3 linked regions of the Homo sapiens genome follow. The protein of the gene in region 1 interacts with the protein of each later gene in a biochemical or structural test. Each region holds a gene or a part of one and is shown in the gene's direction. Other genes may lie near its edges.

Evidence for each region.
Region 2: the proteins of ANGPT4 (region 1) and TIE1 form a complex in vitro, tested with the Homo sapiens proteins (one study listed by BioGRID).
Region 3: the proteins of ANGPT4 (region 1) and TEK form a complex in vitro, tested with the Homo sapiens proteins (2 studies listed by BioGRID and IntAct).

What each region holds. Positions count from the first base shown.
Region 1 is NC_000020.11:876,171-887,175, reverse strand, and holds part of ANGPT4 (angiopoietin-4 isoform 1 precursor), read left to right. Parts: intron 1-1,850; coding exon 1,851-2,098; intron 2,099-5,889; coding exon 5,890-6,005; intron 6,006-7,327; coding exon 7,328-7,429; intron 7,430-8,848; coding exon 8,849-9,015; intron 9,016-11,005. UniProt on the Homo sapiens protein: Binds to TEK/TIE2, modulating ANGPT1 signaling. Can induce tyrosine phosphorylation of TEK/TIE2. Promotes endothelial cell survival, migration and angiogenesis.
Region 2 is NC_000001.11:43,316,047-43,325,678, forward strand, and holds the end of TIE1 (tyrosine-protein kinase receptor Tie-1 isoform 1 precursor), read left to right. Parts: intron 1-1,152; coding exon 1,153-1,363; intron 1,364-1,517; coding exon 1,518-1,628; intron 1,629-1,835; coding exon 1,836-2,026; intron 2,027-3,188; coding exon 3,189-3,302; intron 3,303-3,412; coding exon 3,413-3,483; intron 3,484-5,222; coding exon 5,223-5,263; intron 5,264-5,349; coding exon 5,350-5,446; intron 5,447-5,569; coding exon 5,570-5,669; intron 5,670-6,604; coding exon 6,605-6,676; 3' UTR 6,677-7,062; downstream 7,063-9,632. UniProt on the Homo sapiens protein: Transmembrane tyrosine-protein kinase that may modulate TEK/TIE2 activity and contribute to the regulation of angiogenesis.
Region 3 is NC_000009.12:27,102,932-27,114,760, forward strand, and holds the start of TEK (angiopoietin-1 receptor isoform 1 precursor), read left to right. Parts: upstream 1-6,293; 5' UTR 6,294-6,659; coding exon 6,660-6,711; intron 6,712-11,829. UniProt on the Homo sapiens protein: Tyrosine-protein kinase that acts as a cell-surface receptor for ANGPT1, ANGPT2 and ANGPT4 and regulates angiogenesis, endothelial cell survival, proliferation, migration, adhesion and cell spreading, reorganization of the actin cytoskeleton, but also maintenance of vascular quiescence.

The sequences.
Region 1 (11,005 bases):
TGCCCTAGCTGGACTCAATTTCTTAGTCTGCAGAATGAGTTGGCACAAGTGGATATACAGTAAAATGTCTCCCTCCCAGCCCTGTCTCTCAGCCACCCACCCAAGCCAGAGGTAGCCACTGTTCCTAGTTTCTTGTGTATCCTTCCATTCATTCAACCAACAATTATTTTTCAAACTCTTTTCATGTGTCAGGCACTATTGTAGACACTGTGGATACAGAAGTGAACAAAGAGACAAAAGCCCCTGTCCTCGTGAAGCTGACATCCTATAAGCTGACATTCCAGGGTTTCTTATGAATATGCAAACACATACATACAGAAGATTGCTAACTTACAATGGTTGGGCTTACAATTTTGTGACTTAACAGTGGTATGAAAGTGATACACATGCAGTAGAAACCGTACTTTGAGTACCCATACAACCATTCGGTTTTTCTCTTTCAGTACAATATCAATACCTTACATAAGCTACTCAACATTTTGTTATAAAATAGGTTTTGTGCTAGATGATCGTGCCCAATCACAGGCTAATGTAAGTGTTCTAAGCATGTTTAAGATGGTCTAGGCTAAGCTAGGATGTTCAGCAGGTTAGGTGTATTAAATGAGTTTTTGACTTAGGACATTTTCAACTTACGATGGCTTTATTAGGACATAGCCCCATCATACATTTTGGAGCATCTGTACATTCCCATTTTTATCCTTTTTAAGCCCAAATGTAGCCTACTACTTGTTTATACCTTGTTTCTACAAATTATTATTCAGTTACCTTGGAAAGATTCTATAACTGCATGACATGCTTGCTCATTTTTTTCTCCACCTTTATAATGCTCCACCATATGTGGTCCCTGCTTTTATTCCTCCAGTCCCCAGTTAATGGATATTGAGGTTGCTTCCAGCCTTTTACTAATCCAACCAGTGATACGATGAGTAACATTTCCATATCTCATTTCACACACATGTGAGTAAATCTGGAGGATAAAATGTCCAAAAAGAAAGAGCTGAGTCTAAGGCTTTCTTTTGAAAAACTCCTCTTTGCTTCTAAATCCATTACAAAAAATGTCTCTTGATTATTATAATATCATCGGACAACAGGAACCTGTACAAAATAAAAGTGAAAGTTGGGCCCTCCATCCTGCCCCCATCTTCCTCCTCTCCATCTTCATCCACTCAAACCTGCTCTGCAGAAGTCACAGCACTTGAGGGAATTTCTTTCATATTCTTCCCAAACACAGGCACCACTGCGGTCTTTCCAGCCTTCTCCTATATGTTCACCCCATTTCTCTTTATTTACATTAATACTTTCTTTCTTCTCTTGCCACACATGGGGTTAGGCTTGATGTGCCCCAAGTCCTGGGCATCTTTCCAATTCTGTGCAAATGCCTCCTCCTTCATGACTGCGGAACATTTCCAGGGACGCCAAAACGCAACGGATTCAGCCAGTCCTGGCTTTTGGGCATCTAGGCTATATCTTTTTTGGTTGGTTGGTTAGTTTGTTTTTCTATTACAAGCAAGTCCCCAGGGCCATTCTTGACCATGCTCCCTAGAGGATAACTCCTGAGAGTAGACTGCTGGGTCAAAAAGCAAGCACAGTTGGGATTTGATAATAGCTACCCAGTTGCTGGTGTCCCTCCCACACCACCTCTTTCTTCCACTAAACCTCAATCTATATTACTCCAGGGCCGGGTATCTCTTTTCTCCCCTCCTCAATCTGTGCCTACAGTGGGCACAGGACGTTCCACCACACTTGAGTCTCATCGTCGGGCTGCAGGGACTCCAGGGCCGGGGAGGCGCGCGGGGGTGCGTGCTTCGCGAGGATGCCAGGCTCACCTCTGTGCGCCCCCTACCCCGCAGCGCGCTCGAGAAGCGGTTGCAGGCCCTGGAGACCAAGCAGCAGGAGGAGCTGGCCAGCATCCTCAGCAAGAAGGCGAAGCTGCTGAACACGCTGAGCCGCCAGAGCGCCGCCCTCACCAACATCGAGCGCGGCCTGCGCGGTGTCAGGCACAACTCCAGCCTCCTGCAGGACCAGCAGCACAGCCTGCGCCAGCTGCTGGTGTTGTTGCGGCACCTGGTGCAAGAAAGGGCTAACGCCTCGGCCCCGGGTGAGTGAGCGGTGTGCGCCCCAGTGTGGCTAAAGACGGGCAGGAGAGGGGAGGGGAGACCCTGCTCACCCTCCAGGGTCTCTGGGCGCCTGGGAGCCATTGCGGGCCCCACCCTCCCCGACCATCTGTGAAATAGAAACAACAATAAACAGTAATAATGGCGTCAACAACAATCCCAATCCAGGCCCTGTCCCCTGATTCCATGGGTGACCTTGGGCATGCCCCTGCCCCTCTCTTGGCCTCAGTTTACCCATGGGTTTTGGAGGCGAGGATGAGGGCAACAGCAATCCAGACTGACAAGTTTGGTCTCCAGGATTCATTCTCCAGCCCCACTTTCTTGGGCTTGTCCTACCCCTCCCTGGGCCTCAGTTTTCCTGGCTGTAGAATGGGAGGAACTGGGAGGTTAGACTCAATGCACCCCAAGGACCTCTCTCATCTTAATGCCCCTGCCCCTAAGCCCAAGAGGGCCAAACAGAAGTGAAGAGGCATCCCTGGCCCTGGCTTCTGGGTCAAGAAAACAATTCTGGGCTGGGCTCCCAGGCTCTCACTGACTCCTTCTAACACGGCCTACTTGGGGTGTCCAAGGCATTCTTGGCCCCAGCTGCAATCACTCAGTCAACAAACATTTACTAAGCACTTACTGTGTGGCAGGCCCAGTGCTGGGTGCTGGGGATACAGCAGTGAATGCACAGTCACAGCTCCTGTCTCTTGCAAAAATGTCCAGTCCCTGGTTTACGGGTCCCAAAGGGAAGGAGAAAGAAATACATGGTTTTTGAGTGCATAATATGTGCCAGATGCTCAGCTATCAGTGTTCCTGAAGTTTCCAGACCATAAAAATAGACAGGTCCAAAGGCTGTGCGAAGGAGAAGGGCTCTTAGCCTGAGGCTAGCAGGGGGCATGGGAGGCTTTTGAACAGAGTGGGACTACTTTCAAGAAGCTCTGACTGGAACCATGAGTGGAGATGTCCTGATGAGAGAGAAAGACCAAAGGGGCTACTGCTGCTCCTGGATCCATAGTGGAAGGCTGGAAAGCCTTTAAGACCCAATAGTGATGGCGCTCCCGGCACCACCAGGGCTGACAGGGATTTGAGGGCAGAAGATTCCACCCTGGCTCCATCTCAGTCTGGCAGACCCAGCTGAGTAGGGGTTTGAGGCCTAAGGAAGCTACAGGTAGGAAAAGTAGACACCTTCCAAATCGCGACATGTGGATTAACCTGAACCTATTACTGGCGTATGCACAGACCTGGCCTTGAGCTGCCTGAATTCATCCCATGTGTGGGTTTCTTGTAGCTCAGCCCAAGGCACAGGGCCTGGGCCCAATGCCTCCCACTAACCCACTGGTAACCCAGTCCCCAGATGAGGCTGAATGTCTGCTCAATCGTCTGAGTAGGAGGTTGTGTTGGGCACCTCACCTTGGGCACCTTTTGCCCAAACACCCTGTCCCCCGTGCTCCACTATCACCAGGGAAGGACACTAGGCAGTTGCTTTCACCCCCTTCTGGATGGAGAAACTGAAGGAGAGGCTCAGTCACCAGGTGTAGAAGAGAGGGCTGGATGGAGATGGGGCACAGGAACCAGGCATCCTTGAAGTCTAGCAGGAAGGGAGCACTAGCTCTCTGCATGGCTTTGTCCCAGTCAGGTGGAGGCTAGTGAAAGGAGAAGAGAGTCAAGTCTTCTGATGTTCCCAGGCACTGGGGAGTTTGGTTCAGAAGGTTACAAGGACATGGGCACAGGCAGAAAAGACCAAACTTGTGCATGATATAAAAGCAGCGATTGTTCATGCAGGCTGTTTGCCCAACCTTACATATGCTCAGTGGTGGAAATCCAAAGGAAGATGTGTAGGAGGAAGGGCACTGGCTTTGCAGTCAGATGGGCCGGAGTTCAAGCCCTGGCTCCTTCACTTATTAATTAGCACTGGAACTTCATACAAGTCATTTATTTAACTTCTCAGAGCCTCAATTTTTCTTACTTGTAAAACGGGAATAATAATCTCATAGAGTTCTTGCACAGAGAATCGGATGAGTTCATGCATACAAAAGGGTTCAGCACAGTGCCTATGCACAAAAGCGAGGGAAACTGGTACAAATTACCAGCCCAGATATTCAGAGGAGGACCAGATCAAACTGTTGCATATCAATATCAGTCCATCCTATTCTTATGCCTCCCAAAAATATTTTTCCTGGCCCCAAACTACCCCTGGCATTACATGACACCTTGGAAACACTACAATACATGGTGAGTATTTCACTTTTTGTGTTGATATTATTGTTGTTATTGTTATTGATATTGTTGTAGACTAAGGAAAATAACAGTGAGCAGAGCCTTGGAAAGGGTGGCTGGAAATCTCAGGCCAACCCTGGCTCTGTCCTTGCCTTACTGGGTGAGGTTCAGCCCATCCCTGCTCACCTTGAGGCCAACAGCCTCCTCATGCTTGGCTGGACTCCAATTCCCTGTGGGGAGCTGAGGGGGTGCCAACAGGTGGGGCAGGGGTCTCCACTGCCCAGGAAATGCTTGTGAGTGAACTGGAATTGATTTGGGGGTCTTAGTCATCTCATTTGTGACATGAGAGCAATAGCCTTCTCTGGACAAGTGCCCCAGATCCAGGATCTGGGATCCCTGAAGTTCAGATGTAAAGCCAAACCAGGAAGTCCCACCCTGTGGTAGCCTCCTGGTTCCTCACTGGTGTTGACAACCTATCCATCTGGAATTTTAGCCCCATCCTGGGTACCTGGCTACCCAGAGAGATTGGATTCTGGTAGAATCATAGTTCAAACCTCTAACTGGATTCCACTAATTGAGACAGAGGAGATTTTAAATCTCTGCACTTTGTTTGTCAACAGTCACTTTTTCCAGGCCAGGCCTAGAAACCCCTGGTAGGTTTTAGTCATTAATACTATCCCGATCTCATGTAGTCCAGAGGGAAGAAACAGGGGCCCTTTAAGGCCAGCAGTCAGCTTCAAGGGAGGACAGAATAAGGGAGCATATGCCCAGGGCAGCAGGGAGATACAGCCAAAAGGGTGGGCTATGAAGGGGAGCCCACAGCTTCCCACCCAAGGGAGCTCCAAAGAAGGAAGGTTCTGCCTTACCTGGCTGTGTGCCCTTGGGCCAGTTGCCTCACTCTTGGGCCTCAGTTTCCTGGTCTGTGAAATGGGAAGTGCCTCACTGGAGTTCAGGCCCCAGTAACTCTCTCCCAGAAAACTCTAGCAGCCTCCTCTCTGGCCTCCCAGCTTTGAGTCTCATCCCCTCCAGGCCCCCCTCCACACTCTGGACAGAGTGCTCTTTCTCAGCCCAGAGAATCTGGGCTCCGCAGCCTGGCACTCACGGCTGACTTGGCCCTGCTGAAATCTCAGCTTCGTCTCTCCTTTTCCTTCCCCACCTTCTCTGTGCCAGCCTTGTTCTACCCTCTCAGTTGCATCATACAGCAAGCAGCCTCCCTGGTCTCAACTCCTCTCTCACGGTGTGAGTCATTTCCTCTCCTTGGCCTCAGCCTTAGTTCCCCTCCCCATGCCCTGTCCTCTGCACACACTAGGGCCCTTCCTACCTTGGGGCCTTTGCATATGCTGTTTCTTCCGCCTGGAACACCTTCCCCTTCTCCACTGGGCAACTCCTGCTCATTACACAGGTTCCAGCTTACTGTCACCTCCTCTACGAAATCTTCCCAGGTCTGACTCATCTCCCTGTCCCCAGCACCTCCCAACCCAGAACCTGGCACAAAGCAGGCAGGCATGCCCACTTGGCCCCTTCTCTCTTTCCTTGCCCACCTCCAACTGACTTTTGTGTTGTCCCTTTGCAGCCTTCATAATGGCAGGTGAGCAGGTGTTCCAGGACTGTGCAGAGATCCAGCGCTCTGGGGCCAGTGCCAGTGGTGTCTACACCATCCAGGTGTCCAATGCAACGAAGCCCAGGAAGGTTAGGGGGCTCCCTGGGAACTGTGGCTGTTAGAGGGTGCTGAGCCAAGGGCTTCCCAAACAGACACCCCGCACCCCATCGGGATCAGGCTTTGTCCAGTATCTGAAATACCAGAGGTGTAGGGGTGGCTTTGACTTCCCAGCAGTCAGGGATCAGATTGTGGGGATAAGCAGAAGTTCCCAAAGTTGGAAGTGCATCCTTAACCAGCATCACTTCAGAGGTGCTTTAACTGGAACAGCACAAAATAGTTCAGTGTTGGTTAAGATGATGATAGCTGATATTACAAACAACCCCCAAAATTCCAGGGCCTTAGCCCAAAGACGTTTCTTTCTAGTTTACATATAGTCCAGTTGAAGGCAGGAGTTGGGGTTCTGCTCCATGTGGGAAATTAGAAACCAGGGCTAATAGAGGTGCCACCATTTTCAATCAGTGGCTCCCAAGGTTGTCCTAAAATTTAAGGTCAAGTCATCCGATAAGAAGGGTGACAGAGAAGAGCACGGATGTCAGGAGGGAGGGTCTGAGAGCCAGGCCTAGAAGGGAAACAACTAGCAGATTCCTACTTCATAATTCCCTTTTTTTTTTTGAGACAGGGTCTTGCTCTGGTGCCCAGGCTGGAGTGCAATGGCATGATCACAGCTCACTGCAGCCTTGACCTCCTGGGCTCGAGTGATCCTCCTGCCTCAGCCTCCCAAGTAGCTGGGACCACAGACACATGCCACCATGGCCTGGCTAATATTTTTAAACATTTTGTAGGGACAAAGTCTCCCTGTGTTTCCCAGGCTGGTCTGAAACTCCTGAGCTCAAGCGATCCTCCCTCCTCGGCCCTCAAATTGCTAGTATTACCATTGCTCTATTTCCTTTCACCCCCTCTTAATATACTAAGGAGAATGCCTCTGTTTGTCTCCAGGTTGTCTTTTACACTTCTCACACACCTGCTAACCTCTCCTTTCAACAAAAAGAGGTCGAGCTTCCGTTTACCTAGTACTGCCAGGCACTGTTCTAAACACTTTACGTGACTCATCTCGTTTAATTTTCACAACCCCAGTTGGTAGATGAGAGACTGAGGCACAAAGAGGTTAAGGTATGAATCTCCATTTTACAAATGAGAGGAAGGCTCTGAGAGGTCATTCCTTACCCACCACTTTAGAAAAATGATGACAATGGGTGGGGAATTTAAGCCTGGATCTTTCTGATGCCCAGGACCCCCAGGCTCACCTGTTGCTCTGTGGGGGTCTGTCTGCTTAGCCACATTTGGGCTAGCACAGGCCTGGCCTCTGGCTACCTCCAAGGGCTCCCAGCTGTGCCTTGCCCACCCCCTCCAGGTGTTCTGTGACCTGCAGAGCAGTGGAGGCAGGTGGACCCTCATCCAGCGCCGTGAGAATGGCACCGTGAATTTTCAGCGGAACTGGAAGGATTACAAACAGGTAGCCCTGCTGCCTTGGGGAGGGGCCATTCTGCTCTGAAACCTGGGGCTGGGGCTGGGCTGTTGGAAGGGGACTGCTTTGCCCTCATTCCTCCCCCAGAAAAAATCAACTCATCTAAAGCTGACAGTGCACATCTGCTTTATGGGACCCCATCACCTGAATTTGAATGTTCTTTCTGAAAGTTCTGACATATGTTCTAAGAAAAAAAGTTTAGCTTTATTTTTGTTTTAATTTTTTTTAAAAAAATACATATACATTTCTAATTTTTTAAAGAATACAAAGGAGGAGACAGAATAAAAATCCCCCCAGTCAACCCTGACTGCGTTGCTTTAATGAAGTTTCTTGTCTTTTCATACGTCTATGATCATATCTGCAGGAGAGATTCATTAACGAGGAATTGCAGGCCCAAAGATCACATGTATTTTATCAGATGAGAAGCCCGATTGTTTTCCAATTTTTTAATTAGGTTTTGAATAAAGGATTTTTTGCCAAGCTGACTTAAAATACTTAAAAGCTCTTAAAGTTTTCAAAGCCAAAGAAATAGAAAAAGATACCCACAAAGTGATACAGCAGTTCTATTATTTGCGTCTGCTTGCTGTTCATTTAAGGAATACTTAAAAATAAATACCAAATTAAGTTATGAGTGTTTTGAACTAATTGGGCTTTAAACAACCATTAAAATGGCAAGGAGGAATAGGGTGTCCAGGTGCAGAAATACACAAAAGAACCCTGAATATTAACCATCAGGCTAACCCGCATTGCATCGTGACTAAATTGGGGAGCGGGCCTTGGGTGTGCCCCTGTCCTTGGTGCTGAATTCTTGTTCTGTCCAAGGGCATTGGGACATGACATTCCCCACACTCTCAGTTTTACATTTCTGTGTTGCTGAAATCTTGCAGTGGCTGCGCTGTCACTGAACAAAGTTTGCTCTACTATTTATGTAGCTGATTGAAATATTTTATTTAATTTTTGTTGAGGTTTAACGTACATGTGTCTAAGCGCACAAATAAAGTGTAAGGCTCAGTGAGCCTTTAGATATGTATTTAACCACGTGACCACCATTCAGTGCTAGATGTACAACACTCCCAGCACCCCAGAAGCCCACTTTGTGCCCCCTCCCAGTCAATACTCCACCAAAGGTAGTCACCAAATATTACTTTTTCCTGTTCTTGAACTTCAGAGGAATGTGATTTCAATAACTTTTAACAGGCTTTTACACTTACAAAAGCCTTAGTCTTTTCCCTCTAGCAGGTGGAGGGCTCCTACTCCCAGTCCTGCCTACACTGTACTTATGAACTCGATCATTAAGCACAGTGGTTTTGTATAAGTAGCCCTGGAGCCTGGCCCAGCCCAGCTCCTCAGCCAGGGACATGGCCTCCTCCTCAGCATGAGTCTCACCCCACGCTCCCCTCCCTATAGGGCTTCGGAGACCCAGCTGGGGAGCACTGGCTGGGCAATGAAGTGGTGCACCAGCTCACCAGAAGGGCAGCCTACTCTCTGCGTGTGGAGCTGCAAGACTGGGAAGGCCACGAGGCCTATGCCCAGTACGAACATTTCCACCTGGGCAGTGAGAACCAGCTATACAGGTGGGTTCGGGGCCCAGGCCGTTGTGGGGGCTGGGGTCTTCAGCTAGTGGGCGGGCTGGGGTCCCCAGGCTAGTGTCTACAGAGTCTGCTCCAACGGTCAGTCTCTGGGTGTCTCCTGTTCCTACCATCTGTCCCCCATTTGGGTGCACGTCATGGGATCTGGAGGTGGCTGGTTAGCACTCAGCATGTCCTAGCCACTGGGTGGAGTGGAAAGAATGTCATTGGTGCTGCCATCCGAGGAGCAAGAAGGGGTCTTCCAAGGTCAGTCACCCCAAGTCAGCCTTTTTACAGAGACCCAGAAGCAAAAGGAGGTGACTTGCCCAGCCTGTCCTATGCCCTGGGGCTGGGTGGAAGGGTCCCTGGGCCAGAAGTTGAAATTCCTGCACTCATTGTGGCCTTGCTCCAGCTTGCTTTGGGAACTTGGACAAGTCAGTCTGGCTTCTCTGAGCTTCTGCTTCTTCAATAGCAGGATGAGCTTAAACATGACGATCTTGTAAGATCATCAAGGTTTCTCACCCCTTCCTCAGCCTGGTTCTTGGTATATTTGGGAAAAGGAACTAGCATTTATTGAGCACCTACTGTGTTCCAGGCACCATTATTCCATTTAATCTTCCCCACAACACTTTGAAGTAGGCATTACTGTACCTACTTTAGTAATATGGAAACTGAGATGCCAAGTTTAAGTATCCTGCCCAAAGTTACAAGTTAAATGAGCTGGAATTTGAACTCAGATCTCCCTGCTGTCAAAACTCATGATGTCTCCACAACATGATATTGCCTCTCAGAGAAATTTAAGGATCTTTTAGATAAGCCTGGGTCCTGGCTATCTCTGAACCAGGATTCACACTCACAGGGCTGCAAAAAATCTCACGTGTCATCTGGTTCTTCATAGATTCCCTCCATAGTTGCAATCATCATCCAGCCGTGCTGGAATACCTCCACTGGTGGGAAGGTCGCTTCCCCACAAGGAATCTCTGAATGACTCTCTGTCCTCCTGAACTTTATGCCTGATTCCACTTCTGGGAACTTCTCAGTGATATGCCCCCACTGTTTCCTCCAGCTGAGTCCCATTTAAGCCACTGGCCACCAAAGCAAAGGCTTTTTTGAGGCAGGGTCTCACTCTGTTGCCCAGGCTGGAGTGCAGTGGCATGATCACAGCTCACTGTAGCCTTGACCTCCCAGACCTCCCAGGCTCCAGTGACCTTCCCACCTCAGCCTCCCAAGTAGCTGGGATTACAGGCATGCACTACCATGCCCAGCTGATTTTTGTATTTTTTATAGAAACAGGGTTTCCCTATGTTGCCCAGGTTCTGACATCCCTCCTTATGGGATCCATACCAACCTGATAATGCAAGGTCCAGAGCTGAATGAAAAATTCCCTGGATGTCCCCCTACTCCTCACACCTGACCAGTGAGTAGCTACAACACTATGCTGAGTCCCATTTAAGCCACTGGCCACTAAAGCAAAGGCTTAAATCCCGACTCCATCCCTACTTCCCTGAGTGACCCTGAGCAAGTCCCTTCACGGTTTCATCTGTAGAATGGGTGCTTTAGGCATACCTACCTCAAAAAGGGTGTGATGAGGCCTGAATGAGATACTGCACATGAAGCATTAACACAGTGCCTGGCATGTAGTAAACGCTCAGCAAACAATATTACGATCACTGTCTCGTGGCAGCCTTTCACACCCTTGACTGGACTGCTTTCTGGGAGCACGGCTGTTCCCATCCCCAGACATAGTAAGTGCCTAAAAGGAAGCTGAGGGAGCCTCCCAAGTCTTTTCTACACAGAGAATAATTAAGTCTCATTTCCCTGGCGACAGACACAATCTATGACTGGAGGTGTGGGGACTGAGCCAACCATATACCCAGGCTCTGTATTCCCTCTGAATTCCCACTGGGGAATTTCTCAGGCCCTGCCCTGAGGGTACAAGAGCTTCCTTGAGCTGCCCTGGCCACATCTGCCACCCACTTGCCTCCACCCAGCAAGA
Region 2 (9,632 bases), on another chromosome or scaffold:
AGACCTTGTCTCAAAACAAACAAAAAGATATATCCCTGGTACATGTGCCTGCATATGGATAGGAAACGTGTGTGCACAAATGTGTGTGCTCCATGTATGAGTGCACACGTGCATCCCCTGTGAGTGCCACATGTTTAAATGCGTGTGTCCCAGATGCACGTGTCCCTATGCCTGTGCACCTTCAGGCCTGCATGTGTGTATGGACCTATACATGATGCACCTACATATGGTGCTGCCCAAGAACATCACGTGCATTTGCTATGTGCCGTCAGCACCAGTGCTTCTTGCAAATCCCTGGGCCCCAGGTCCTCAGCCCTTGCCCATCAAGCTGGACTTCAGTGCACTTAGGAAGCCCCACCAGAAGGTCTGTCTTAACCCTGCTTCCAGTTCTCATATTGGCAGTTTCTTTGGTCCTGTTCACTTATTTCCTTTTCCCACCATCAGCCCCACCCAGATGGCCTCCTCCTACTGAGTTAGGAAATTGGACATTCCTCTTTGTTATAGTCTTGCTATTTTCAGGTCCTGGCCTGATTTTAGAGCTATGGAGAAAAGCCAAGTGTGTGGACAGGGTAATCTCTGCTTCTGCTACTGTGGAGAAAACCCCTCCACTGGCTCCCAGCAGCTCAGGGCTGAGCATGTAGTAGGTGCTCAATAAATGTCCCCTGGCCTACTCCCTAAGGCTGGAATCTTCTCCAGAGCTTCCCTGGTGACCCCCAACAACAACAACAACAAAAAGCCTGGTTGTAGGATTAGCACAGTCATAGGAAGCTCATTCCGATCCTTTTCTGTTTTAAATGTTAGAAATATCCTCCTTCCATTGACTCACATTGTGGCTTCTAGCAACTTTACCCACAAGCCCTGGTTCTGCCTTCCAGAGTCCCGTACACTAGATCCCCTGGCTGCAGCCTCTGCATTTCTCTCCTTGGACATCTGTCCACCCAGCAGCCTACCTGTGGCTCTGTTACCTATGATTCTGTCTCAGTTATGTCCTCTGTCTGCCTGTCTGTCCCTGGCTGACCACCAGGGTGCCCTCCATCTGGGTCTCTGCCCACTTGTCTGACACTGAAACCTCCTCGTGTGCCTGTCTGTGCCTCCTTCCGCCCCCTTTGACTCTTGCGTGGACCGTCTGCCCTCTTGTCTCATCCTGTGAAGGGCGAGGAGACCATCCTGCAGTTCAGCTCAGGGACCTTGACACTTACCCGGCGGCCAAAACTGCAGCCCGAGCCCCTGAGCTACCCAGTGCTAGAGTGGGAGGACATCACCTTTGAGGACCTCATCGGGGAGGGGAACTTCGGCCAGGTCATCCGGGCCATGATCAAGAAGGACGGGCTGAAGATGAACGCAGCCATCAAAATGCTGAAAGGTCCACTGGGGCGACCCCTGGCCCAGCCCTGATGCTCTCCTTTGTCCCACAAATCCCAGGCCCCACCTGGCTTCCTCCAGCAATTGACCCCAGCCCTTGCCAGCCCTTTCTCCAGAGTTATTTCTGGCAAAATAATATTGGATTCTTTACACAGAGTATGCCTCTGAAAATGACCATCGTGACTTTGCGGGAGAACTGGAAGTTCTGTGCAAATTGGGGCATCACCCCAACATCATCAACCTCCTGGGGGCCTGTAAGAACCGAGGTGAGCCCCCAGCTCATCACCTACCCCTTCTTCCAAACCCCCATCCTCAGCCATCACCTCCACCACATGAGTAGCTTGCCAGGGGCTGCTGGTGACCTGTGCACCACCCTTGATCCTCCTTCATCCCTGTCTGTTACCATCGGGTGCCTGCTCCCACCCTAGGTTGCCTGTGTCTAAATCACCACTGTCTGTCTCTTTGCCTCTCAGGTTACTTGTATATCGCTATTGAATATGCCCCCTACGGGAACCTGCTAGATTTTCTGCGGAAAAGCCGGGTCCTAGAGACTGACCCAGCTTTTGCTCGAGAGCATGGGACAGCCTCTACCCTTAGCTCCCGGCAGCTGCTGCGTTTCGCCAGTGATGCGGCCAATGGCATGCAGTACCTGAGTGAGAAGCAGGTGTGTGTGAGTGGGGGCGGGTGGAGGCCAGAGGGGGAAGCCACTGGGCTGGTGTCAGTGGAAGAAGTCAGCCGGCCCTGATTGTATCTGGGGATTGAGGTTCCTGGCCCAAGTGTGTGGGTGGGTGCAAGCACAGCGAGGAGGCAGGGCCAAGGGGCAGGTCTGGAGGAGGTGGGGACTTCCAGTATGGAGGGTGCGGGTGTTGAGTGAGCAGGTCTAGATGCTAGCCTGGAACTCAGGAGAGAGGCCCAGGCTGGAGACAGCATCTGTGTGTGAGCTGTCACCCCACAGATGGTGCCTAATGGCAATGGGCCTGGTGCGATCTGCCGGAGAGGGGGAAGGGCAGAGATCCAAGCCCAAGTCAACTCAGGCCTGAATGAGAGGACAGGGGGATGACTGTCCAGGGGAGTGTGAGTCTGAGGGAAGGCATTTTATCTTTTTTTTTTTTTGAGACTGAGTCTCACTTTTTTGCCCAGGCTGGAGTGCAGTGGTGCGATTTCAGCTCACTACAACCTCTGCCTCCTGGGTTCAAGCAATTCTCCTGCCTCAGCCTCCTGAGTAGCTGGGATTACAGGCATGTACCACCACACCCAGCTAATTTTTGTATTTTTAGTAGAGACGAGGTTTCACCATGCTGGCCAGGCTGGTCTCGAACTCCTGTCCTCGAGTGATCCACCCGCCTCAGCCTCCCAAAGTGCTGGGATTACAGGCATGAGCCACTGCACCTGGCCAGCATTTTAAAGATAGTAAAGTTTTGAGTATGTTTGAAAGCAGAGGGGCAGGGGAAGGGGCCAGTGCAGAGGGAGGGGCTGGTGGAGAGAGGTCTCTGGGGAAGCTGGAGGGCTAAGGGAGAGAAACTGGAACCCAGGGGATGGGAAGAGGGAGGGGGAGAAGCATGGAAAGAGGAGAAGGTGCAGTATGGCCACCACTGTCTCAGGAAAAGGGATCCAGCCTGAACTTGGTCAGGGCCCAGGAACGAGCGGGTGAGAGCCAACACTGATCTTTCTCAGATATGAGTCAGCTGACGAGATTGCAGCCAGGAGGGTAGGAGTATGGGGTATTGAAGGTAACAAGGGTACCCACGAAGACTGACTCCTTACTGGCCTGACTGTCCTGGGCTCCCTCATCCCCAGTCTCTCCTGACTTCTGACCCTGCCTACAGTTCATCCACAGGGACCTGGCTGCCCGGAATGTGCTGGTCGGAGAGAACCTAGCCTCCAAGATTGCAGACTTCGGCCTTTCTCGGGGAGAGGAGGTTTATGTGAAGAAGACGATGGTGAGTCTCATTCAACCCTCACCCTTAGGGCTTGTGCCTGGCCCTGCCCCACAGGAGCCTCAAACAGGCCCTTCCTCCACACTCAGCCCCTCAAACCCATTCTCTCCTAGGGGCGTCTCCCTGTGCGCTGGATGGCCATTGAGTCCCTGAACTACAGTGTCTATACCACCAAGAGTGATGTGTGAGTGTGAGATGAGAGGGCACAGGAGGGCTTGGCCCCCAAGAATCACCCAGGCCTGACCTAGACATATCTCAGAAATGTCATAGGTGGTCTAAGGCATGACCTGGGCTGTGTTCCAGGTGTGACACAGGTGTGTCTTGGGTATAAAGTACCTAGCCAAGGTGGGGCTTGCTGGAAGGAGTCTTGGAAGGTGTTTCAGGAATAGGACTGGGGTAAAGGTAGTTTCGGATTATGTTTGTGTAAGTGACGGGGGATGCCTTGGAGAGGTTTGGGAATGCTGGCGGATGCTTCCTGAGGTAGATGGAGAGGCCACTCAGGAATTGCTCTCATCTTCCTCCCTGAAGGGCAAGGTCATGCCCACCTGAGGATCTTACCAGAGCATGACCCCCAAGACTCCCTCTCTGTGCCCCCTCCCCTGCAGACAGCCCTCTTGGCACACTCCTCCTGTCTCTCCAGGGATGTCCATCTTGATCTGAACCTACCCCTTGCCCCAAGCCCTTTGGCCTTGCCTGCATGGCTCACTGCTTACCACACTGATCACTCCTCTGACCACTACATGCCTACTTCGTGCTTCTGCCCCAACACTCCCTTGATTCCCTCCACCCCCTTTGAACTCTCTCCCCTGGTCTCAGGGCTGATGCACACTACACAGAGGCTGTTAAAGTGTGAGATGCAGTCAAGAGTAAGAGCTTTGGAGCCTGAGTTGGAACGCTTGCTCTGCCACTAACTAGCTGTATGGCCTTGGGCAATCTAGCTAACCTCTCAGTGCCTCAGTGTCTTCATCTGTAAAATGGCAAGACTAATAGAACCTGTATCATAGGGTTGGTGTGAGGGTTAAATGAATTAACATGTCTGTTAAATGACCAGGGCCTGGACCACGGTAAGTGCTCAATAAAAATGTTAGCTCGGCTGGCTGTGGTGGCCCACATGTGTAATCCCAGCACTTTGGGAGGCCAGGCAGGCAAATCACTGGAGACCAGGAGTTTGAGACCAGCCTGGGCAAGATGGCAAGACCCTGTCTCTACTAAAAATACAAAACATGGCCGGGCGTGGTGGCTCACGCCTGTAATCCCAGCACTTTGGGAGGCCAAGGCGGGCAGATCACAAGGTCAGGAGATCGAGACCATCCTGGCTGACACAGTGAAACCCCATCTCTACTAAAAATACAAAAAGAAATTAGCCGGGCATGGTGGCGGGCACCTGTAGTCCCAGCTACTTGGGAGGCTGAGGCAGGAGAATGGCGTGAACCCAGGAGGCAGAGCTTGCAGTGAGCCGAGATCTCGCCACTGCACTCCAGCCTGGGCGACAGAGCGAGACTCTGTCTCAAAAAATAAATAAATAAATAAATAAATAAATAAATAAAAATACAAAACATTAGCTGAGCATGGTGGCACACACCAGCTACAAGGGAGACTGAGGTGGGAGGACCACCTGATCCTGGGAGGTTGAGGCTGCAGTAAGCCACTGCACTCCAGCCTGGGTGACAGAGTGAGACCCTGTCTCAAAAAAAAAAAAAAAAAAAAAACAAAACAAAAGAGCTCTAATTGTGCTGAGCCCAGGGATGGGGGCAGTATGAAGGAGCTTCATTGGCGCAGAGACAACAGCTGGCCAAGGCCAGATACTTACAGAGTAGACACATACAGCGGGGCTGGGAGGCACTGCACATCTTGGGCAGGTAGAAGCTAAACTGCTAGGGACCAGGGCCTAGAAGGTAACTAAGTGCATCCTTCTTATTTCAGCTGGTCCTTTGGAGTCCTTCTTTGGGAGATAGTGAGCCTTGGTGAGTTCCTGATCCCCGTCCCCCAGAGTGCCCCACCTTACCCCACGTGGAGCCCTGGACCGAGAGCACTTTGTCCCCTCCTGCAGGAGGTACACCCTACTGTGGCATGACCTGTGCCGAGCTCTATGAAAAGCTGCCCCAGGGCTACCGCATGGAGCAGCCTCGAAACTGTGACGATGAAGTGTGAGTCACCCCATCCTTGAGCTCCATGATCCTATCTCTGTGATGAGTGACCTCAGCTTTGATCCCTGTGACCCCATCACCCCAGCTGGCCTGACTCCTCATCTCAGCAATGCCCCCTCGCAGGTACGAGCTGATGCGTCAGTGCTGGCGGGACCGTCCCTATGAGCGACCCCCCTTTGCCCAGATTGCGCTACAGCTAGGCCGCATGCTGGAAGCCAGGAAGGTGAGGAGACTGGGGCTGAGGTGGCGGGCTGGGCTCACAGAGTGCTCCAGAGTGCCCTCTCAGAGGTGCCATGACCCCTGTCCCAACCACACTGCCTGCCCAACCTCCCTCAGTGGGGGCTGTCACCACGGCTAGGCTGGGCCCCAGGATGCAGCCTGCCTTTCCAGCCCTCACTGGTTTAGACACCAGGCCCTTCCAAAACTCTTCCAAGGCCACTGCTTAGCCCCAACAGCAAATCCCTACCTTAAGCCCCAAGTCCCAGACTGCTTGCCTGTCCTCTGCTGAGGCCATCAGCCTGTCCTCATCTGGGACACCTCTCCCCACCTGCCAGAGCCAGAGCAGAGTGCATGAATAGTCACTAACCAGATGGATGGATGGGTGAATGAGTGATACAGTAACCGTATGAATGAATGAATGGAATTAGTGGATAGATGATACAATAATCATATGAACATGTAATTCAATAACTCAATCTACTAACCATGTGAATAAGTGAATTATCAAATAAATATAATGAAAAATATATCAAAATTAGTAAATATGAAGAGTTCTTCAAGTAAATTAATGATTAAATAACCATCTTAAGAATGAAGGAATGATCAAATAACCATATAAATGGATGAGTCGTCTAAAATGGCTTTTGAACAGATAAGTTACTGAATGAATGAACGCATAAGCCAAGAATTCATTGAAAGAGTGCATGTAAAAACCCTCCTCTAACAATGGCATTGAGAGCCTCTCACCTGAGGCCCCAACTGTGGCCTGATGCCTTCACTGCCCTGGGCTGGTAAAGGCCACTCTTGGCCATGGGGCCATCTTAGGTCTCCAGAACAAATCAGTGTCAGTTCAAATGCCCCCACCACATGGAAGTCCAGGAGCTTGAGGCCAGATGCACCCCCATTCCTGGCCCCCACTAAAGCTTGCTCTGCCCCCAGGCCTATGTGAACATGTCGCTGTTTGAGAACTTCACTTACGCGGGCATTGATGCCACAGCTGAGGAGGCCTGAGCTGCCATCCAGCCAGAACGTGGCTCTGCTGGCCGGAGCAAACTCTGCTGTCTAACCTGTGACCAGTCTGACCCTTACAGCCTCTGACTTAAGCTGCCTCAAGGAATTTTTTTAACTTAAGGGAGAAAAAAAGGGATCTGGGGATGGGGTGGGCTTAGGGGAACTGGGTTCCCATGCTTTGTAGGTGTCTCATAGCTATCCTGGGCATCCTTCTTTCTAGTTCAGCTGCCCCACAGGTGTGTTTCCCATCCCACTGCTCCCCCAACACAAACCCCCACTCCAGCTCCTTCGCTTAAGCCAGCACTCACACCACTAACATGCCCTGTTCAGCTACTCCCACTCCCGGCCTGTCATTCAGAAAAAAATAAATGTTCTAATAAGCTCCATTCAATGTCTACCTTTTACTGCTGGTCAATCTTGGGGTGAGGGGCGTAGTTAAACCCAAGAGACAGAAACTGGCCGGGCGTGGTGGCTCACTCCTGTAATCCCAGCACTTTGGGAGGCCGAGGCGGGTGGATCACGAGGTCAGGAGCTTGAGACCATCCTGGCGAACATGGTGAAACCCCGTCTCTACTAAAAATGCAAAAAATTAGCTGGAAGTGGTGGCGGGCACCTGTAGTCCCAGCTACTCGGGAGGCTGAGGCAGGAGAATGGCCTGAACCTGGGAGGCGGAGCTTGCAGTGAGCCAAGATCGCACCACTGCACTCCAGCCTGGGCGACAGAGCGAGACTCCGTCTCAAAAAAAAAGAGACAGAAACTGGGCTTTCTAGGAAAAGAAACACTGTCTGAGGCCTCAGCCCTCTGTTGAGGTTGCCTGTCCAGGATAGGAGGTGCTCTGGAAGACTCATTTTACACAAACACCACCAGCCCCTACCTCTGTCCTGATTAGAAGGCCAGTTTTCCCCTGTTCCCTTCCCTGCTCTCCAGCTTCCATCACTAACGTGTCTCCCTGTGTATCTCTAGGTAGCAGCCAGCCTAGGATTCTTTGTTCTGTCCAAATAGTCCATGCCAGGATCATCTATAGCCAGCCTCAACTCTGCCTGGCATCTCAGCGCCAGACGGATCCTGGCCTGTCTAGAGTTTCCTTAGGTGCCTTCTTCTTTACCTTATGCCTCCAGGCAGCCTTCCCTGGCTTGGTAGCCACTTCACTGCCCAATGTATGAGCCCAAAAGGAGGAGGGCAGAGGCCACTCCCAACTTCAGCCAGCCAAGGTAGGATTCCTTTGCCATCTTCAGGGCCTCATAGTGCTGTGAGAGGTGCTTCTCTCCTGGTCCTGAAAGTGAGTCCCACACTACTCCATGCTGTGCAGCCTCTGGACTTGCCTACTGTTTGGATTGCTCATGGCTGGCCTTAGATTTCTCTCCTATTGGTCCTTAAGAAACAAGATTGATTGTGTTTTACACATTTTTTCAGTGAATCAGAAGACATCAAAGAAGGCATAACATGGTGTGGCACTGTGATGAAGAGCACAGGTTCTAGGATCACACCAACCTGTGTTCAAGTCCCTGCTATGTCACTTATCATCTGTGTGGCCTTGGTCAAGTCTCTGAGCTTCAGTTTTCTCATCTAATTAATGGAGTTAGTAACAGCTACCTCGTTGTTTGTGTTAAATGAGACCACACAGGCCCATCTTTCACAGCACTGGGCCTGGGCCATAGTAAGTACACAGTGTCAGCTGATATCATTATATACAAATGCAGGAAGCTGCAGGGAGGTAATGATTAGGATCTGTATTCTGAAAATACTTGGATGGTTGGAGGAGGATGAATTTAAATGGGAGGCTACGTAGGATGAGGGAGATGGGAACTGCTAGAATAAAACTTCATTTCAGATCCACATTCACTGCAGGGATTTTGCCAGGTCCAGGCTGTGGAGATTAAACCATTGTCTTTGATGGAGACCAATATGTAAACAAGGATGCCTCTGTGAAGTGACAGCTATGTTAACAAGCAACAAAATACAGCGGTGTATGCTCTAAGAGAGCGGGGGAAGCTGGGGAAGGCTTAAACAGGAACTGGAGTCAGAACAGTTTCCCAGAGAAAGTGATGTTTTAATCTGGACCATGAAGAGGAAGCAGGGTTTCACCAAAGGAAGAGACCCTGGCACAGGAAACAACACCTGTGATATGTGGCATGTTCAGGAGCTGCAAATAGTTCTCTGTGGCTGGAGCAAAGGGAAAACAGGGTAATGAACCCAGAGAGGTGACGGATGCCAGGCTATGCTGAGCCTTATAGGATATGAATCTTTATCCTAAGAGCAGAGGAGCCACAGAAGAGCTATAAGCAGGGGTGAGTCATAATGAGATTTGCATTTTTTTAAAGTCACTCTGGCTACCCTGTGGAGAACAGATTATATAGGAAAAACAGTAAAGGTGAGGAGCATGGCTATAAATTAGAAACCTTAGATGAGATGAATAAATTCCTAAAAATACACAAACTACTGAAACTGACTCCAGAAGGAATTCACCAATCTAAATAGACTTAAACAAAAAAAGAGATTGAATTAGTAATAATAATTAAAAAAAAAAAACACCCACAAAGAAAAAGCCCAGGCCCAAATGCTTCAATGGTGAATTTTACCAAACATTTAAAGAATAAATACAAAAACTCTATACAAACTTTTCCAAACAATAAAAAACGAGAGAAGGCTTCCCAATTTATTCTGTGAGGCCAGTATTACCCTGATACCCAGAACAGACAAAGATTGCACAAGAAAAGAAAACTACAGACCAATATCTCTTATGAATATGGATGCAAAAATTCTCAACAAAACACTAGTAGGAAGAATCCAGAAACATAAAAAAAAGATTATACATCATAATAAAGTGGAATTTATCCCAAGAATGCAAGGTTGGTTTAACATCTGAAAATCCATACACTATATCAATAGACTAAAAAACAAAAACTACATGATCATTTCAGCAGACACAGAAAAAGCATCTGACAAAATATAACAC
Region 3 (11,829 bases), on another chromosome or scaffold:
ATACATATGATGGACTATTATTCAGCCTTAGAAAGAAAGAAGTCTTGTCACATGCTACAACTTAGATGAACCTTGAGGACATTATACAAAGTGAAATAAGCTAGTCATAAAAAAGACAAATATTGCAGGATTCTACTTGTATGAGGTAAGTAGAATGGTGGTCGAAGGGGTTAGGGGAGGGGAAATGGGGAGTTGTTCAATGGATATAGTGTTTCTGTTTTTCGAGACAAAAAAGTTCTAGAGATCTGTTGTACAAGAATGTAAGTATAGTTAACATTACTGGCCTGTACAGTTAAAACCAGTTAAGATAGTAAGTTTTATGGTATGTATGTTTTCACCACAATTTTCTGAAAAGGTGGTGAATTTTACTGTATATAAATTATATTCCAACAAACCTTTTTGAAAAAAATGACCAAAATTCTTGATTTTATTTTAGTTTCACACTTTATAATTCTTCAAATCAAAAGGTGGAGTTTATGTTTCCGCTCCTAGATGCAGTCTGAGTGATATGAATTGATTTGGCCAACAGAATGTACAGTAGTAATGATATGCTAATCCTAAGCCTAGGCCTCAAGAGAACTTGTCTATTTCCACTCTATTGGATTTCTGAGCCTGCCACGTTAAGAAGCCAGACTAGCTTGCTGGAAGGTGAGAGAGTTAAAGCTCTGCCATCCTGGTTGCCACACAGGCAGTCAGCCCATACCTGAAGCTGAACTACCTTAATGGCTGACAATTGACTGTGAACACATGAGGGAGGCCCTCTGAGATCAGGGGAACTGTGCAGGGCAGCCCGAACTTCTGACCCACAGAGTCACGAGCTACATAAATGATTGTTGTATTACGCTGCTACATTATGTGGTGGTTTGTTAGGTATTGGTAGCTACCAAGAGGAAGGTTTCATAGATGAGATGACATTTGAATTTTTTTTTTTTTTAATTTGAGACAGAGTCTCACTCTGTCCTCAATCTGGAGTGCAGGGGCGCGATCTCGGCTCACTGCAACCTCCACCTCCTGGGTTCAAGTGATTCTCCGGTCTCAGCCTCCTGAGCAGCTGGGATTACAGGCATGCACCACCACACCTGGCTAACTTTTGTATTTTTGTAGAGACGGGGGTTTCACCATGTCGGCCAGGCTGGTTTCGAACTCCTGACCTCAAGTGATCTGCCCACCTCGGCCTCCCAAAGTGCTGGGATTACAGGCATGAACCACGGTGCCCGGCCTGGATTGTATTTTGAAGGAGGAATAGGAGTTTACTTTTTCTTTTCATGTTATTTTATCATTTTTAAAGCTTTTTTTTTTTTTCAAGGCAGGGGAATACCTGTATCTGTGTCCTATCTATTCTATCTATACCTAGTCTATGTTATCTGCGGCCACATGACCTCACAATGGTTGCAAAGACATCCAGGTTACTCCTTCTCTTAAGCCATTGAGAGAAGGCATAGGATGATTCGAAATAAAGTACAGAGCTCCTGCCCTAAGAGCTTACAGTCTATCTGGAAAGATGCCACCTGTGTCTAGGAAATACCAGGAAAAGAAAAAAAAAAGTATGAGAATTGGTGTTCTCTAGTCTAAAGGGTACAAAAGCAAACAACTGCTAGAACTTTATTCCTTGTACCACCCTTTGGTATTCAACAGCACAATGCCTGATTTTGTGATTTAACTTTTCCTGTTTTGATGCAGTGCCACCACGCTGGGATTTTGTAATTATGAGCTTCAAAAGCAGAGACAACATCTTCTATTTCTGTGTCTCTTCCTACGGTGAATAATATAGTCCTTGCCGTTTCAATGTTAACAAAAGAAAAAGAAAAATGCTGCAATAGCTGAGAGGGTTTAGAGTAAATGGGGTTTGGAGAGGGTCAGGTATTTTCCACAGCCAAACCAGAGTGGATGTTGTCCCTTTAACTGTGGTGTCCTGGCTGAAGGCCAAAACTTAATTGTTGATGACCCTTCCTTTTCTTTTTTTTTTTTTTTTTTTGAGATGGAGTCTCACTCCATCCCACAGGCTGGAGTGCAATGGTGTGATCTCGGCTCACTGAAACCTCCGCCTCCCAAGTTCAAGCAATTCTCCTGAGCCTCCTGAGTAGCTGGGACTACAGGCACATACCACCATGCCTGGCTAATTTTTGTATTTTTAGTAGAGACACGGTTTCACCATGTTGATCAGGCTGGTCTCGAACTCCTGACCTCGTGATCCGCCCTCCTTGGCCTCCCAAAGTGTTGAGATTATAAGCGTGAGCCACCATGCCTAGCCTGACCCTTCCTTTTCTGCTAGCCACTGTTATGTACAGTGGGTTCACAAAAAAGTTCATTAATGTCCTTAAGAAGTCAGATGGGATGGCTCTGGTGGCTCAGTGCCCACAGACCAGTGAAAGACAGAATGTCCGGGCTGTACTGTAGGTGGCTGACACCCCATCTTCTTGGTCACCTCCTGGAGGCCACACTTTATGTATCTGGATTCTGTTTCTTTTTAAAATTATCCTATTTTATTAATTTATTAATTTTAAATTTTTGTAGGTACATAGCAGGTGTGTATATATTTATGGGGTACATGAGATGTTTTGATACAGGTATGCAATGTGAAATAACCACATCATGGAGAATGTGGTGGTATCCATCCCTTCGAGCATTTATCCTTTGTGTCATGAGCAATGCAATTACATTATTTTAAAATATACAATGAAGTCATTATTGCCTATAGTCACCCCGTTGTGCTATCAAATAGTAGGTGTTATTCATTATTTCTAAGTAGCTTTTTTTGTCCCCATTAACCATCCTCACCACCTCCCCCACCCTCCCACAACACTTCTCAGTCTCTGGTAACCATCTTCTACTCTCCATCTCCCTGAGTTCAATTGTTTTGATTTTTAGATCCCACAAATAAATGAGAACATGTGATGTTTGTCTTTCTGTGTCTGGCTTATTTCACTTAACATAATGACCTCCAGTTCCATCCATGTTGTTGCAAATGACAGGATGTTATTCTTTTTTATGGCCGAATAGTACTCTGCTGTGTAGATGTTCCACATTTTCTTTATCCATTCATCTATTGATGGACACTTACGTTGCTTCCATATCTTAGGTATTGTAAACAGTGGTGCAGCAAATATGGGAGTGTAAATGTATTTTTGATGTACTTATTTCCTTTCTTTGGTGTGTATACCCAGCAGTGGGATTGCTGGGTCATATGGTAGCCTGGATTCTGTTTCTTATTTGCCAGTGGATGTTTTAAAGTATACATCCTATTGCCCTGGGTCAACTTTCTCAAGGACGTCCCCTCAGTCTTCTTCATTTTTACATATATGTTCGTTATTTCTAAAAGTGTTAAAATTATAGAAAAGTATAAAAAAGAAAATAAAAATTATGTTTTCCAACAACTCAGAAATAGTCACTTTCAACGCTTTGATATTTATTTGTTGTATATCTGTGGTGTGTATTTCAGTGTGTATAAATTTCATTCTGTTTAAATTGTGTTTTTTTCCCAATCAACAGTATACCATAAACATTTTCACATCTTTTTATGTCAATCTGATTTCACCATAGTATTTGAACACTTGTCTGGAACTTCATTGTATACCATGATTTTTAATAAATAATCCATTTTTGTTGACCATTTTGATTATTTCTAGGCTTTGATTATTATCAACTATGCTTCTATAATGTCCTTATACACAAATTTGGGGGCACATATTTGATTTTGGCTTGGTGTATATCATAAAAATGGATTTTCTGGTGGGGCGCAGTGGCTTACACCTGTAATCCCAGCACTTTGGGAGGCCAAGGGGGGGGGGGGGTGGATCATGAGGTTAGGAGTTCAAGACCATCCTGGCCAATATGGTGAAACCCCATCTCTACTAAAAAGTATAAAAATTAGCCGGGTGTGGTGGTGCACGCCTGTAATTCCAGCTACTCAGGAGGCTGAGGCAGGAGAATCGCTTGAACCCAGGAGGCGGACGTTGCAGTGAGCCGAGATAGTGCCACTGCACTCCAGCCTGGGCGACAGAGTGAGACTCTATTTCAAAAAAAAAAAAAACTGGATTTTCTGGGCCAAAGGGTATGCATACAAGGCTTTTGCTTTGTGTTTGTGATGTTGACCTCTTGACATGTGATACCAGTGTATAGTAGTATTATGTAAGTTATTTTCCACCTCTTTCAGAAAAACCGTTTTGTTATCTATTGATACCTTTGTTAATTAGTCTCAAAGACTTTTAATGTTGTCTATAGTGTTTTTCATGTATTGAGTGCAAAAAGCAGGAAATAGAAAATGAAGAATCAGCCAAGAGCCTTGTTTGTTTGTTTAGTTTGGTTTGGTTTTCTTTATGCTTTTACTGTAGGTATGTCTGGAAAAATCAAATTAAATGGAATGAGCTTGACTCATGAGGAGGCCCCTTTCATTTTCCTGAAGTGAATTAATACAGCACCCACCGATCCTGACATTAGTTATTTCAGAAGCACACTAAGAACTGACCGCACTTCTCAGTGTCACCAAACTATTCTTATCTGTCAAAGTTTCATTTCAAATACTTCTGTAAGGTCTAGGTGTACCCTGCTGGTGTTTGTGATGTCCTACATTACTCTTGATCTACTTTTCAACTATGAAACAAGGGAAAAATTGGAGGTCCAGAGCTCAGGATTCAGATATTATTACCTCTGCTACTCACAGCAGAGCAAGTAACTTAGCCTGTGTGGAACTTCATTTTTCTTTCTTTTTTTTCTTTTTTTTTTTTTTTTTTTTAGACAGAGTCTTGCTCTGTCACCCAGGCTGGAGTGCAGTGGCACGATCTCGGCTCACTGCAACCTCTGCCTCCCAGGTTCAAACAATTCTCCTGCCTCAGCCTCCAGAGTAGCTGGGGTTACAGGTGCACGCCAGCAAGCACAGCTAAATTTTGTATTTTTAGTAGAGATGGGGTTTTGCCATGTTGGCCAGGCTGGTCTCAAACTCCTGACCTCAGGTGATCCACTCCCAAAGTGCTGGGATTATAGGCGTGAGCCACTGTGCCAGGCCCACTGTTTTTGTTTTTTTTTTTCGTGATGACAAATTTAAAGTCATCTCATAGGAATAGAAAATAGCTTTTTAGTAGAAGCTCTTGGAATTTAAATTGAGACTGAATGGAAAGATGAAAGAAAATAAACTTATTAACATTTAATGAGAACCTTCAAAGAACTAGGCATAGTACCAAATGGTTTTATATTTTTAAACCTCATTTATTCCTCTCAAAACACCTGGGAAGGAGATATTTTTGCCATTTCACAGCTGTTGAAACTGAGGCTCAAAAAGACTAAGTAACTTTTCTCAGCTACACATGTGGCTGAGCCAGTATTTGAACCCAGTTCTGTTTGCAGACAGAACCTGGGCTTTTTCACACCTGCAAACTGGAAACATTAATTGGTTCTTAAGATCATCATCGATGTGATAAAACCTGGGACAGAAATTAGTCAAGACTAGCTGCATCTGCCTTTTCCTCTGGTGGGTAGGAAAAGGAGGAGTATAATGATTTCCTCAGGCATGAAGGTCGATGATGAGCAAAGTGTATACTCTCTAATCTAATGTCATAATTCATATTGTGGAGTAATTATCTGGATAAGTGTAGGGTCTCTGACCTCATTCTAGATATTGTACATTCCATGGCTATTTTCATTTTGGTCCATGAACTCTCTTTGCTCTCATGAGCACCATTTTTATCCCAATCTAATCCTGTATGTTTGTGTTTTTACACAGATTAGTTTTTAAATGTTATATATAATTTGCTTCTGAAACACCATTGCTCAATGACTACCAAATCTTTCTCATTACCAAAATCCTTCTATGCCAACTTCTTCAAGAAATTTGATCACCTTTAGATGAATTGTTAATGAAAATTAAAGCTATAGCCGGCAACATGGGTATCTTTGGGCTAATGGCCAACCAACAGGCCATCTGTGTGAAAGAAAACAGGCTAACAATTTTGGACTCTGGTCTCTTGGGGCTACATTGAGCATTGACCTCACCGGTGCTCACTGAAATTAATTGCTTTTCAGGTTGTATTTTCTCATCACGGAAACCTTCTTCTCCCAATTCAAACCATGTGGGTTAAAATGAGAAAACAAAAGCCAAAACGGCTTCCCACACCCAAAAGCTCCTTCTGTCAGAGATCCCAGTAGCCCCGGGAGAGCTGTTAGAAGTCTGAGAAGGATTGGTCATCATCGCATACCATACATAGGTGGAGGGCTTGTTATTCTCAGTTTCCCGCCTATGAGAGGATACCCCTATTGTTTCTGAAAATGCTGACCGGGACCCACACTTCCAACAAAAATTCCTCTGCCCCTACAGCAGCAGCAAAAGCAGCAGCAGAAGCAACAGCAACAGATAAGTGTTTTGATGAATTGCGAGATGGATAGGGCTTGAGTGCCCCCAGCCCTGCTGATACCAAATGCCTTTAAGATACAGCCTTTCCCATCCTAATCTACAAAGGAAACAGGAAAAAGGAACTTAAAACTCCCTGTGCTCAGACAGAAATGAGACTGTTACAGCCTGCTTCTGTGCTGTTCCTTCTTGCCTCTAACTTGTAAACAAGACGTAGTAGGACGATGCTAATGGAAAGTCACAAACCGCTGGGTTTTTGAAAGGATCCTTGGGACCTCATGCACATTTGTGGAAACTGGATGGAGAGATTTGGGGAAGCATGGACTCTTTAGCCAGCTTAGTTCTCTGTGGAGTCAGCTTGCTCCTTTCTGGTAAGGTTTGGCTTTATTTTTTTTAATTTAGTATTTTAAAAAACAGAGTTAGTGATTTCTGGGTGCTCTCCCCAAATCTCATCAGTGCTGATGAACAAGGGGTGGCTGTAGCAAAGGCACCATTTCTCTGTGAGTCTCCAGTCAATATGTGTGGAAGGATTGAAATGCAAAGGCTCTGTGGCATGAACTGATTTTGCTAGTTTGTCTTCTGGGTGATTGGCCCCTGTGTTAGAAACTCTTTGAGGACCGATTAAATCATCTTATTTGAAGAGATCCCCTTACTATCATGCATTATTTTCCTGCTCCTCATTCTGGAGTGTTTTTCTTATTGATTTTTTTTTTAAAGAACAAACCGGTTTTACCTGCTTTAAAGAAAATCTTCAGTAAAAAATGAAATTCATGCTGAGAAATACAGGGGCCCAATTAAGGCAGTGTATAGATTGTCACTGTTAAAAGGGAACAAAGATGCTTTTCTGTAAAAAGATTTTATATCTACATCCTATTTTAAGCAAAGCAATGAAATTGTAGGCTTTTTTTTTTTTCTTGTAGTTAGGGTCAGGGAGATTGGGGCTATTAGAATTTTTGTTTTATTTTAAAAAATGTTTGCCATGTAGTAATTCATAAAGGGTTTACTGGCCCAATGAAACAAAAATTTAGGCAGTTACCAAAATCTTTAACACAGGAGAGTATATGAAGCCTGTTGTAGAGTGAAGGAGTGGTTGGCCAGTGTGTTGGGTTCAGCGTGTTTATTGCTTAGATACTCCAGATAGTGGTGTGCCTCTGTAGCTCACTCAGCCTATGTGACATAGGTAGAAGGCAGTATCCAAACCTGAACTACATATCACAAATACATTTATCATTGCCATCAGTCTCTCCCCTTCGGTTTGAAAACATTCTAATTTTAATAACGAAAATCGAATTGATATTGGAGATGAATTTGGGAAAATTCACTAAACTTCATGGATATAGGGCATATTAATATAATTTGATTCGAGTATACATAAGTATCTGCTATATTTTCTAGGTGTTTGAACTATTTTATTAAATATTCAAAAAACAAATCCAATGAAATAACTGAGTTGAATACAGTTTGTTTTATAGCTCTCAACAACCAATATTTTGAGAATTTAATAATATTCTTTAAGAATGTGTAACACAAGTTGCTAAAAATTAAAAGATTTTAGGTGGCTTCAGTATTTATGTGGAAATTGTTTAAATAATGTTGACTTCTCCAATAATATGTACTTCAAATAATTATCATGATTCCATTTTTGATTTTTTTTTTTCTGAGTGCCATTATTTACCAGTGACATGAAATCTGGAACTTACTCTATACCAGGGATTATAGTGATGTGAAGCCCAGGTGTCTATAGTTTCTCTGAGGTACTTTGTAGGTTAATACACACACAACTGTTTTCATTCACTTTTTTTACTCCTAAAGCAACTGTGTTATAGCACTTTGCAATACAGGCTTAGAAGAATTGTCATAAAATCAAACAAAAAGGTATGTAGCCAAAATACTTGTTCCATGTCTAGACCTCAGATCCCTGGAAAAAACAGCACTGCCTTTAAAAGGCAGAGGACCAAGGAGAGGAAGTAGGTTCATGTTCTTGTTAGGAAGGGTGACACTAGCAAGGTTAGTTTCTGAGGTAGGTCTGTTGTCTTGATCGTAGCTTGCATTCCTAGTCTAAGCCTCCATGAGCATGACTGCTCAAGGCTTGATAATTGCAACAAGAATCCAGCTAGATAATGTCCACAGCCATAGGAGCCCGTTCCTCTAGTCAAACTCCTGGTAGACTAAAGCAGTGGAGCAAGGGGCTTATGGCTTAAAGGTTTATCTCTCTAGTCCAGTGGGTTGTTTCTTGTTTCTTTTTTCTGAACCCACAGACTGAAAAAAAAAAAAAGCCACTTTTTTTTAGTGAAGGTGGCTCTGGATGACAGAGTTGTTTACCCATAAGAGGGCTGGAGGGGATGTGTAGCTCTCAGAAGCTCCTTACAAATACTCCTAGATTCTGTTGCTTTCCTTTTCTGAATTGAGAATCATTGCTAACTTCAGCTTTCAAACAGGTTCTATTATATTAGCTTTTCCCTACTCTTCCTCATAAAACCAGGCTGTTCTCTTTAAAAAGTTGTATATGTAGAAAACTAACAAAAAAATCACTGTGATTTATCATAGTATCTTCTACGTGATCAACAATGATCTAATAGGAAGTCTCTAGTCTCATGCTTTCATACCTCTTTACTGTGTCACTTGACTTTTTTTTTTTTTTTTTTGAGATGGAGTCTCGCTCTGTCACCCAGACTAGAATGTAGTAGAGTGATCTCAGATCACTGCAACCTCCGCCTCCCAGGTTCACGTGATTCTGTGCCTCAGCCTCTCGAGTAGCTGGGACTACAGGCGTGCGCCACCATGCCTGGCTAATTTGTTGTATTTTTAGTAGAGACGGGGTTTCACCATGTTGGCCAGGCTGGTCTCGAACTCCTGACCCCAAGTGATCCGCCCGCCTCGGCCTCCCAAAGTGCTGGGATTACAGGCATGAGCCACCACGCCCGCCCTTGTCACTTGACATTTTAAATAACAACTGGATTCAGAGATAGCAGACATCTTGTCTGGGGTGGCAGAGGAAACAGTTGTAAGGTCAGGGAAGTGCTCCCAGATGAAACCCCCTTGTTAGGGCTGGTCTCAGAAGGCTAGTGTCAAGTCTGAGTAATCAAGGGTGGAGGTCTGAAAGCTGGGATCGGAGACACCCTTTGGAATTATTCTCAGAGGGAGGAGCTTGCTTTTTTCACAGATGCTCCCTTCCAAGCATTGTCTTTATTGTTTGTTAGGTCTCAGCATTTCCCTTTCAGCCCTGCCCTGGGAGAGCTTCCTGGAAGAGTCTAGTTCTTCCAAGGCGTCTCTCCAGGAGGGAAGGAGTCTTCTAAGTTCATCTCAAAAGACTATGTGATGTTCTCTGGGGAATTTAGGTGGGTGGGCTCTAAATTCTTCTGAAATTATCAGTTTGCCTCCTGAGCCTCTATCTCCCCAAAGGATATCTGTGTGATTGTATCACCTGCTTATTCTCTGTAGATGGCTTACTGGTGAGCTCACAGAATCAGGATTTAAATAGATTGTTCTAGGCTGGAAGGGTGGAAAACCAAAACAAAAAGATACCATTTCAAAATAGGTAAATGTCTGGTTCTGTGTTTGGGTTCAAGAAATAAGTTATGTATATTTAATGTGGGAGAGACCTGGTTTGTTGAAAGTTCTTGTGAATGACACCTAGGTTTTGGGGATACACAAAAGTCATGGAAGACAACATAGGCTCTGCTTGCTAAAAAGGTACTGCATAAGCTGTCATATGTTGTATTAGCAGAAATATGAAGTCCAAATCAGAAATGGTAATCACTTCACTGAAATCTACTGCTAAGAGCACATCCATGAAGCACTGAAGACCTGAGAAATTTAACAGCGAACATAGCAGGCAAACTGAAGGAGGAAACATGGATTACAAAGTCAAAGCCCAACTTGGATAACCATAAGCAAGTTATTTAATTTCTCTAAGCCACATTTTTCTCATCTTTTATGGATGAAATACCCATTTTCCAGGGTTGTGATGAGAATCAAATGTGATAATGCCTGTGAAATGCTTAGCCAGTGAGAACTCTCTTAATAAATGAAGCTTGGGGCCTGGTGCTGTGGCTCACACCTGTAATACAGCACTTTGGGAGGCCCAGGCAGGTGGATCATGAGGTCAAGAGATCAAGACCATCCTAGCCAACATGGTGAAACCCCATCTCTACTAAAATACAAAAATTAGCAAGGTGTGGTGGTGTGTGCCCGTAGTCCTAGCTACTCGGGAGGCTTAGACAGGAGGATCGCTTAAACCCAGGAGGCAGAGGTTGCAGTGAGCTGAGATCACGCCATTGTACTCCAGCCTGGTGACAGAGTGAGACTCCGTCTCAATAAAATAAAATAAAATAAAATAAATAATGAAGCTAGTATAATCAAAAGAGAAGTGTTGCTATGAGAACCACTGTGCTAGTCAAGACTGATCTAATCTGCCCCAGGATGTAGGAGAACCACTTAATATTCATAGATGCTGTCTCTTTCTACAAAACCTCAGTATAATCCTGTCTCTCAAACTTTGTGCTGGCCAATTCCAACTGAATAAACCCAAACACTTTGCCAACTACCCATCTACCCTCCCCTCACTTATCCATTTATCCCTGTTTGTATCTTGTCTGCTTCAACCAGGCCCATCTCCACAATCTACACATTCTTTCCTCTTGGCTCTTGTTCATGCTGTTCCATCCATTTAGAAATGGCATCTTTCATCTCTACTCTGCAAACACAATTCAACTCAATTTGCCCAGGCCAACTCTTCCTCCTGATGTTCTTCCCCTAAGTTTAGGCTCCTTTACCATGCAGATTGTGTCTTTGAGCTTTGGGCAGCCAGATTTAGCCCAATTAGCCTCTAAATCTCTCACAACAGATATTATTTCTTTTCTATTCTCATTAGTACATGTATTTAATGTTTAGTAATTTCTGTTGAATGGAGTTTTATGGTCACAGTAAGAAAATGTTGGTACTTCACAGCGGAGCTGAAAGGAAAAGAGAACATTGTAGAAAGGATCTCAGTAACATCGAAATAATAATATTACATTGGGCCAGGCACGTTGGCTGATGCCTGTAATCCCAGCACTTTGGGAGGCCAAGGTGGGCAGATCACGAGATCAGGAGTCCGAGACCAGCCTGACCAACATGGTGAAACCTTGCCTCTACTAAAAATACAAAAGTTAGCTGGGCATGGTGGCATGTGCCTGTAATCCCAGCTACTCGGAAGGTTGAGGCAGGAAAATCTCTTAAACCAGGGAGGCAGAGGTTGCAGTGAGCCGAGATTATGCCACTGCACTCGAGCCTGCATGACAGAGTGAGACTCCGTCTCAAAAAAAAATAAAAAAAAATTTAATATTAGGTTGGTGAAAAGTAGTGGTAAAAACTGCAGTTACTTTTGCACCAATCTGATAATCAATTTTATATATCTTGTAAATGATATTCACTCTCATCTTAAAAGTTTAGCTTATATTAAATGTTTGATGTAAATAAAGTTGAAAGAAAGTTTCTTCTGTTAGGTG